3 separate regions of the Homo sapiens genome follow, and all the other regions are linked to region 2. Evidence: fine-mapped expression QTL. A gene starts in region 2. Each other region holds a variant in brackets. All regions are shown on one strand. Distances are from middle to middle. Region 1 overlaps ZNF850 (zinc finger protein 850). Region 2 holds the start of ZNF461 (zinc finger protein 461). Region 3 overlaps ZNF461 (zinc finger protein 461).

Evidence for each region. PIP is the estimated chance that this variant, and not a neighbour inherited with it, causes the effect.
Region 1: its variant is the best candidate, but not a certain one, in a credible set for the expression of ZNF461 in whole blood (TOPMed, PIP 0.59).
Region 3: its variant is the best candidate, but not a certain one, in a credible set for the expression of ZNF461 in whole blood (TOPMed, PIP 0.67).

Annotation. Positions count from the first base shown.
Region 1 is chr19:36,745,997-36,748,723 of GRCh38, reverse strand. It overlaps ZNF850 (zinc finger protein 850), which reads left to right. Exons shown (of 5, transcript NM_001193552.2): 5 at 1-2,727. The coding sequence ends at 957. Among named protein-coding and RNA genes, the nearest start is that of ZNF850, 25 kb to the left of the region's middle. The variant T/C (reference allele first, on the strand shown) is at 1,435.
Region 2 is chr19:36,665,668-36,668,433 of GRCh38, reverse strand. ZNF461 (zinc finger protein 461) reads left to right here and starts at 1,597. Exons shown (of 6, transcript NM_153257.5): 1 at 1,597-1,744. It also overlaps a transcript of ZNF567 not described here. RefSeq lists an enhancer at 1,291-1,420.
Region 3 is chr19:36,645,159-36,647,924 of GRCh38, reverse strand. The region is part of intron 4 of ZNF461 (zinc finger protein 461); the gene reads left to right. Among named protein-coding and RNA genes, the nearest start is that of ZNF461, 20 kb to the left of the region's middle. The variant G/A (reference allele first, on the strand shown) is at 1,281.

The DNA of each region.
Region 1 (2,727 bases), 80 kb before region 2:
ATTCAACATCAGCAAATACACACTGGTGAGAAGCTCTATGATTGTAAGGAATGTGGGAAATCTTTTACTTCTCATTCAACACTAATTCAACATCAGCCACTTCACACTGGTGAGAAACCTTATCATTGCAAGGAATGTGGGAAATCTTTTACTCTTCGCTCAGCACTAATTCAACATCGGCCAGTTCACACTGGTGAGAAACGCTACAGTTGTAAAGAATGTGGGAAATCTTTTACTTCTCGCTCAACACTAATTGAACATCAGCGAATTCACACTGGTGAGAAACCCTATCATTGTAAGGAATGTGGAAAATCTTTTGCTTTTCGCTCAGCAATAATCCAACATCGGCGAATTCACACTGGTGAGAAACCCTATGATTGTAAGGAATGTGGCAAGGCCTTTAGACGTCGTTCAAAACTTACTCAACATCAACGAATCCATACTGGTGAGAAACCTTATCGATGTCATGAATGTGGAAAAGCCTTTGTCCGTTTCTCAGGACTCACCAAACATCACAGTATTCACACTGGCGAGAAACCCTATGAATGTAAGACATGTGGGAAGTCCTTCAGACAGCGTACACACCTTACTCTACATCAGAGAATTCATACCGGTGACAGACCTTATGAATGTAAAGAATGTGGGAAATCTTTTACTTGCGGCTCAGAACTAATTCGACATCAGCGAACTCACACTGGTGAGAAACCTTATGATTGTAAGGAATGTGGGAAGGCCTTTAGATGTCCTTCACAACTTAGTCAACATAAACGAATCCATACTGGTGAGAAAACTTATCAATGTCCGGAATGTGGGAAAGCCTTTTTCTATGCCTCAGGACTCAGCCGACATCAGAGTGTTCACACTGGCGAGAAACCCTATGAATGTAAGACATGTGGGAAGGCCTTTAAACAGCTTACACAGCTTACTCGACATCAGAGAATTCATGACCTAACATAATTAATGTAGGAAACTGTTCTCATGCCATTTGTCATGGATCATCAGCAGATTCCATATGTGGGTCAAATACAATGGATGTGTATTACTTCATATTCACTTTTTCCAGAATTACGACTTTTTTTTTTTTTTTTGAGACGGAGTCTTGCTCTGTCGCCCAGGCTGGAGTGCAGTGGCGCTATCTCGGCTCACTGCAAGCTCTGCCTCCTGGGTTCATGCCATTCTCCTGCCTCAGCCTCCCTAGTAGCTGGGACTACAGGTACCTGCCACCACGCCTGGCTAATTTTTTTGTTTTTGTATTTTTAGTAGAGACAGGGTTTCACTGTGTTAGCCAGGATGGTCTCGATCTCCTGACCTGGTGATCCACCCACCAAAATTAGGACATTTAATACTGAAAGAAATTGATAATGAATGTAGATGAGTTTTCTATCATGATTCAAAGCTTATTGAAGTTATACAAATTCATATTAGAGAATGTGG[T/C]CAATGACAAAAGACAACCATTTACTACCTACGTGACATTAGGCTAGTTATGTAAATTCTCTGTGCCAAAATTACTAATTGATAAAATGTTGATGGCAATAGTTGTTTTTGTGTATTTTTTGTTTGTTTGTTTTGTTTTGAGACAGAGTCTTGCTCTGTTGCCCAGGCTGGAGTGCAGTGGTGCTATCTTGGCTCACTGCAACCTCTGCCTCCTGGGTTCAAGTGATTCTCCTGCCTCTGCCTCCTGAGTAGCTCAGATTACAGGCATGCACCACCATGCTTGGCTAATTTTTGTATTTTTAGTAGAGACGGGGTTTCACTGTGTTGGTCAGGGTGGTCTCAAACTTTTGACCTCGTGATCCCCCTACCTCGGCCTCCCAAAGTGCTGGGATTACAGGTGTGAGCCACCACGCCTGGCTAGTAATAGTTTTTTTATAATAAATAAGTGTGACTATATTTTTCATGTTTGACTACTGACTTTGTTTTAAGCTTCGCCTTCCCTGTCTATTTCCCTGTCTACTTTAGCCCATAACTGCAAAGGTGGCTAAGAAAGTCCTTGCTGGAAAGAAAGCAAGCAAAACTAAAGTCTGTGCGCACCTTCTCCTTTGGATCCAGTGGGCAATTTATATTAGAAATTCCAAGCCGGGCGTGGTGGCTCACGCCTGTAATGCCAGCACTTTCGGAGGCTGAGGTGGGTGGATCACCTGAGGTTAAGAGTTCAAGACCAGCCTGGCCAACATGTTGAAACCCCATCTCTACTAAAAATACAAAATCAGCCAGACATGGTGGCATATGCCTGTAATCCCAGCTATTCAGGAGGCAAGGCTGGAGAATCGCTTGAACCTGGGAGGCGGATGTTGCAGTGAGCCAGTCAGTGGAGCAGTCAGAACACACACAGTGTTTATCAATTAAGTTTGTAGTCAGAACACACACCATGTTTATCAATTAAGTTTGCTGTCTTATATGGACACAGTTTGTGATGCCCTAAAACAAGTAGTGGTGCCTAAGATAATCATAGGCCACCATAACAGATATAACAACAATGAGAAAGTTGAAATATTGTTGGGATCATCCAAATATGACACAGATACAAAGTGAGCACATGCTGGTGAATAAATGGAGCCAATAGACTTGTTCACTGCATGGTTACGTCAGAGGCGTGTAAACCAGAGCAACTTCTTCTTGAATAGGAGCTGTGTAAAGTAACACTGAAACCTACTGGACTGCATTCCTAGACAGATAAGTCATTCTAAGTCACAAGATGAGATATGAGGTCAGCATAAGATACAGGTC
Region 2 (2,766 bases):
AGATCCCTGTGCACGTGGCTGCGCTCCTGCAAACGTGGCAATCACACGGGTCCAGGTGGCCTCTCACATTTAAGCCACATCACGTATCACCCCCACAGGGGCCACTGCGGGAGTGGCGGCGCTCGCCGCATGAGCCCCACGCGGGCATATAGAACAGCCATTCTCAAAAAGCCTCAAAACCGTTTCACCACCCAGCGCGGTGGCTCACACCTGTCATCCAATACTTTGGCCACTGAGACGGGAGGATCGCTTGAGCCCAGGAGTTCGAGACCACCAGCCTGGGCAACATAGCGAGACCCTGTCTTTACCAAAAAAATAAAAATAAAATAAATCGTTTTGGCCTGACCCGGTGGCTCACGCCTGCTATCCCAGCACTTTGGGAGGTGGATGCGGGAGGAGCTGAGGAGGTGGAGACTGCAGTGAGCTAGGATCGCGCCACCGCAGTCAGCCTGGGCAACAGGGCATGAAGACCCTGTCTCAAAAAGAGGCCGGGCGCGGTGGCTCACGCCTGTAATCCAGCACTTTGGGAGGCCGAGGCGGGCGAATCACGAGGTCAGGAGATCGAGACCATCCTGGCTAACACGATGAAACCCCGTCTCTACTAAAAATACAAAAAATTAGCCGGGCGAGGTGGCGGGCGCCTGTAGTCCCAGCTACTCGGGAGGCTGAGGCAGGAGAATGGCGTGAACCCGGGAGGCGGAGCTTGCAGTGAGCCGAGATTGCGCCACTGCACTCCAGCCTGGGCGACAGCGAGACTCCGTCTCAAAAAAAAAAAAAGAAAAAAAAAAAGTTGAGTGAAATATATGACGTACAGTTTTTTGTTGTTGTTGTTGTTTGTTTTTTCTTGCCCGGGCAACAGGGCAAGAAGACTCTGTCTCTAAATAAATAAATAAATGGAGTCAAATATATGACATACAGTTTTGTTTGTTTGTTTGAGAAGGAGTTGCTCTGTCGCCCAGGCTGGAGTGCAATGGCGCGACCTCGGCTCACCGCAACCTCTGCCTCCCGGGTTCAAGCGATTCTCCTGCCTCAGCCTCCCGAGTAGCTGGGATTACAGGCATGCGCCATCACGCCCGGCTAATTTTGTATTTTTAGTAGAGACGGGGTTTCTCCATGTTGGTCAGGCTGGTCTCGGTGATCCGCCCGCCTTGGCGTGAGCCACCGCGCCCGGCCAAAAAAAAAATTTTTTTTTAAATCGTTTCACATACAAATCTCACGCGCTACACCCTCACCGTCAGTTCATATCCACCTTCTCCTCCGGAGTCACCTTCGGACACGCGCACAACAAAACACCTTTCTCACCACAACTCCACAAAGGGAAGCCGGGTTAGTCCGCGCCCGCCGAAAATTATCTTCAGCCACAGCCCGCGGAGGCCGCCTTGAGGGGTTCGGGGCAGCCACTGTGCCTATTCCGAAATCCGTCCTCAGCGGAACCCGAAGTCCAGAATCCGAAAACGAACATTAACAGGTTGGCGTCACTCCAGCCTCGGGTGAAACTGCGCAAGTGCATCCCGGAGCCCGGCGGAACACACCCGCTCCACCCCAGGCGCTCTCCCCTCGGACTGCATTTCCCAGAGGACACTGCTGTCCACAGCTACTTCCGGTAGGAGCCTCGCAGGAATGGTCTCCGGGTAGAGGCAGGTAAGGATGTCCCGGGCCGGTGGAGAAGGAAGAGCTGGGCGTGTGGCTTCGCTTGGAATCCGAATCAGAGCTTGGACCAGAGCCTTCCCTGAGAATGCTGAAGGTAAGAAATCCTGGCTCACCAGTGCCGCGGAAGGGAATGTCTATAGTTTTAGGCCTCTGAGTGCGGGATCAGCCCTTAGGTGGGTGTGTTTTGAATGCGTGAGGAAGTAGGGTTTCTCTTTGGGCTGTGTGTTACTGTTGGGACAGCGACCTGGTGCGTGGGTGTGCTTTAGTGACAGTGTGATTGTGTGCCTGATCATTTGTGTAAATGGGGTTTGTAGGTGACTGTGACCATGATTGTGAATGGCTATTTGTGTAAATCTCATTTATTTACGTGAAAGAAAAAGCACATTTACAGGCCGGGAGCGGTGGCTCACCCCTGTAATCCCAGCATTTTGGGAGCCCGAAGCGGGTGGATGCCCTGATGTCGGGAGTTCGATACCAGCCTGGCCAACGTGGAGAAACCCCACCTCTACTAAAAATACAAAATTAGCCGGGTATGGTGGTGCATGTCTGTAATTCCAGCTCCTTGGGAGGCTGAGGCAGGAGAATCGCTTGAACCCGGGAGGCGGAGGTTGCTGTGAGCCGAGATCGCGCCATTGCACTCCAACCTGGGCAACAAGAGTGAAACGAAACTGTCTCAAAAAAAAAAAAACAAAAAAACATTCACGTTATCCTCAGGCTCACACGATCAGGCAGAGAGCTTCCACTCCTCTCAGTCAACTCTGGTCTCTCACACACAGACACACGCACATTCACCTCACCCCGCTCCTGTGCACACATCTAAGGCTCAGGACGCCCCACTCCAGAGATCTGTCATTCATCCATCTCTCATCCTTTCCTGACTACTTGAGGAGTTAGCTGTAGATTTACACACACAACACAAGCGAAAATCACATTGCTACCCCGCATTTATCATTACAGCCTCAGAAAAACACCACATATGTAGTATGCTTATGTACCTATGTGTTTGATTTTTTTTTTCTGAGATTTGGCCACAATACACATTGTTCTGCAACTTCCTTTTTTTTTTTTTTTTTTTGAGACGAAGTTTCTCTCTTTCACCGTGGCTGGAGTGCGGTG
Region 3 (2,766 bases), 21 kb after region 2:
CAGGCATGAGCCACCACACCCAGCCCACACACTTTCAAGGACCAGATATCATGAGAACTCACTCACCATCATGAGGATAGCACCAAGGGAATGGTGCTAAACCATTTATGAGAAAACCGCTCCCATAATCCAGTTACTTCCCACTAGGCCCCACCTCCAACACTGGGGATTACAATTCCACATGAGATTTAGAGGGGACACATATCCGAGCTATATCATACAGCCACTATGGAAAACAGTATGGTAATTTCTCAAAACATTAAAAATAGAATTGCCATATAATCAAGCAATTCTACTTCTAGGTATATACGCAAAAGAATTGAAAGTAAATTGAAAGTGGAATTTTAAATTAGAATGTTATTTATTTATTTATTTTTTGCTTTTTTGAGACAGAGTCTTGCTCTGTCACCCAGGCTGGAGTGCACTGGCGCATCTCAGCTCACTGCAACCTCCACCTCCTGGGTTCAAGCGATTCTTCTGCCTCAGCCTCCCAAGTAGCTGGGATTACAGGCACCCACCACCACACCCAGCTAATTTTTGTATTTTTAGTAGAGACAGGGTTTAACCATGTTGGCCAGGCAGGTCTCAAACTACTGACCTCAAGTGATATGCCTATCTCAGCCTCCCAAAGTGCTGAGATTACAAGCGTGAACCACCACACCTGGCCTAAATTAGAAAATTGTTGCATAATGTCAACTACAGCTGAAGAAATTTATATCCTATGATGCAGCAATTTCACTCTGATGTGCATACCTAACAGAAAAGAGTAATTATTTCCACCAAAAGAAATGTACAGGAATGTTCATAGCAGCACTAATCATAATAGTCAACTATTGGAAGCAACCAGAATGTCCATCATTAGGTATATGGGAAAATAAATTGTGTTAGAATGCAATGCTATATATAGTTATCAGTCTCAAACTTTTTATTCTCAGGATGCCTTTATATTCTTAAAAACTATTGAGAACCCCAAGAGCTCTTGCATATGTAGATTATATCCTTCAATATTAACTGTCTTAGAAATTAAATCTAGGAAAAATGAAATATTCATTTAATTCATTTAAAAATAATAAACTATATGTTAACATAAATAAGTTATATTTTCCAAAACAAAACGAAAATAGTTATTGTGAAAAGTGGCAATGTTTTTCATTTTTTGCACGTTTCTTTAATGCTTGGATTAAAAGAAGACACGTGGATCTCACATCTGCCTCTGAATTTAATCTATTAAATTAAAACTCACTAGTCTGTCTTGTTTTTTGAATGGATCTCTTATCTGT[G/A]GTACCTGTTTTGTAACATGATGCATTAGTTATTTGGAAAATATTGCTCCAATTAGTTATGCAGATCTTCCAGACTTTGACACATTTTCTTATAAAATAGCCAAAAAATCATACTTGTTAATAACACCACGAATCTAATCAGGTAAGTCTTTAAGTATTTGGAAGCTGTCAAGCTCACAGGGGCTGACACAAACTTTCCTAAAGTCTAATTTTGACCAGGTGTGGCAGCTCATACCTCTAATCCTAGCACTTTGGGAGGCAGAGGAGGGTGGATCACCTGAGGTCAGGAGTTCGAGACCTGCCTGGGTAACATGGTGAAACTCCGTTTCTACTAAAAATACAAAAAATTAGCCGGGCGTGGTGGCACACGCCTGTAATCCCAGCTACTGGGGAGGCTGAGGCAGGAGAATAGCTTGAACCTGGGAGTCGGAAGTTGCAGTGAGCTGAGATCACACCATTGCACTCCAGCCTGGGCAACAAGAGTGAAACTCCATCTCAATCAACAACAATAACAACAACAACAATAACAACAACAACAACAACAACAAAATAGTCAAAATCTGGCCAGGCACGGTGGCTCACGCCTGTAATCCCAGCACTTTGGGAGGCTGAGGCGGGTGGATCATGAGGTCAGAAGTTCCAGACCAGCCTGGCCAACATAGTGAAACCCTGCCTCTACTAAAAATACAAAAATTAGCCGGGCATGGTGGCTCACGCCTGTAGTCCCAGCTACTCAAGAGGCTGAGTCAGGAAAATCGCTTGAACCCGGGTGGTGGAGGTTGCAGTTAGCTGAGTTCGCTCCACTGCATTCCAGCTTGGGAAACAGAGCTAGACTCCATCTCAAAAAAATAAATAAAATAAAGCTTCAGTTATGCAAGATGAGTGGATTCTGAATATCCACATTCAGACTCCAGAATATTATGACTCTAGTTTGCAGTACTGTATTGTATATTTGAAACGTGCTGAAGGTACATGTTTTTTTGTTACCACAAAAAAAAGAAAACAGTTAACTATGTAAGGTGATGAATAGGTTAGTTAGCTGACTGTGGTGATTATTTCACAATGTAAATGTATATCAAATCATCAGGTTGTATCCTTTAAATATATAAATTTTAATTGTCAATTTTCCCTCAATAAAGTGGGAAATAAAGTGTTTCTCAAAAAATACTCAGTGTTTCTCAAAAACAAATATTGAGAAATTTAACTGTGGATGCTATAATTAATATTTATTTACATTGGTGCTGTATGCTAAGAAATAGAAAAAAGTATTTATTAAATATGTAAACACTTTAAAAAATTTTCTTGTGTTGTAAATACTTTACATGAGATCTACCCTCTTAATGGAATTTTAGGTGTACAATGCAGTATTGTCCAGTGTGGGCACAGGGTTATACAACAGATCTTTTTTGTTGTTGTTGAGACAGGGTCTCACTCTGTTACCCATGCTGGAGTGCAGTGGAGTGATCACAGCTCACTGCAGCCTGGA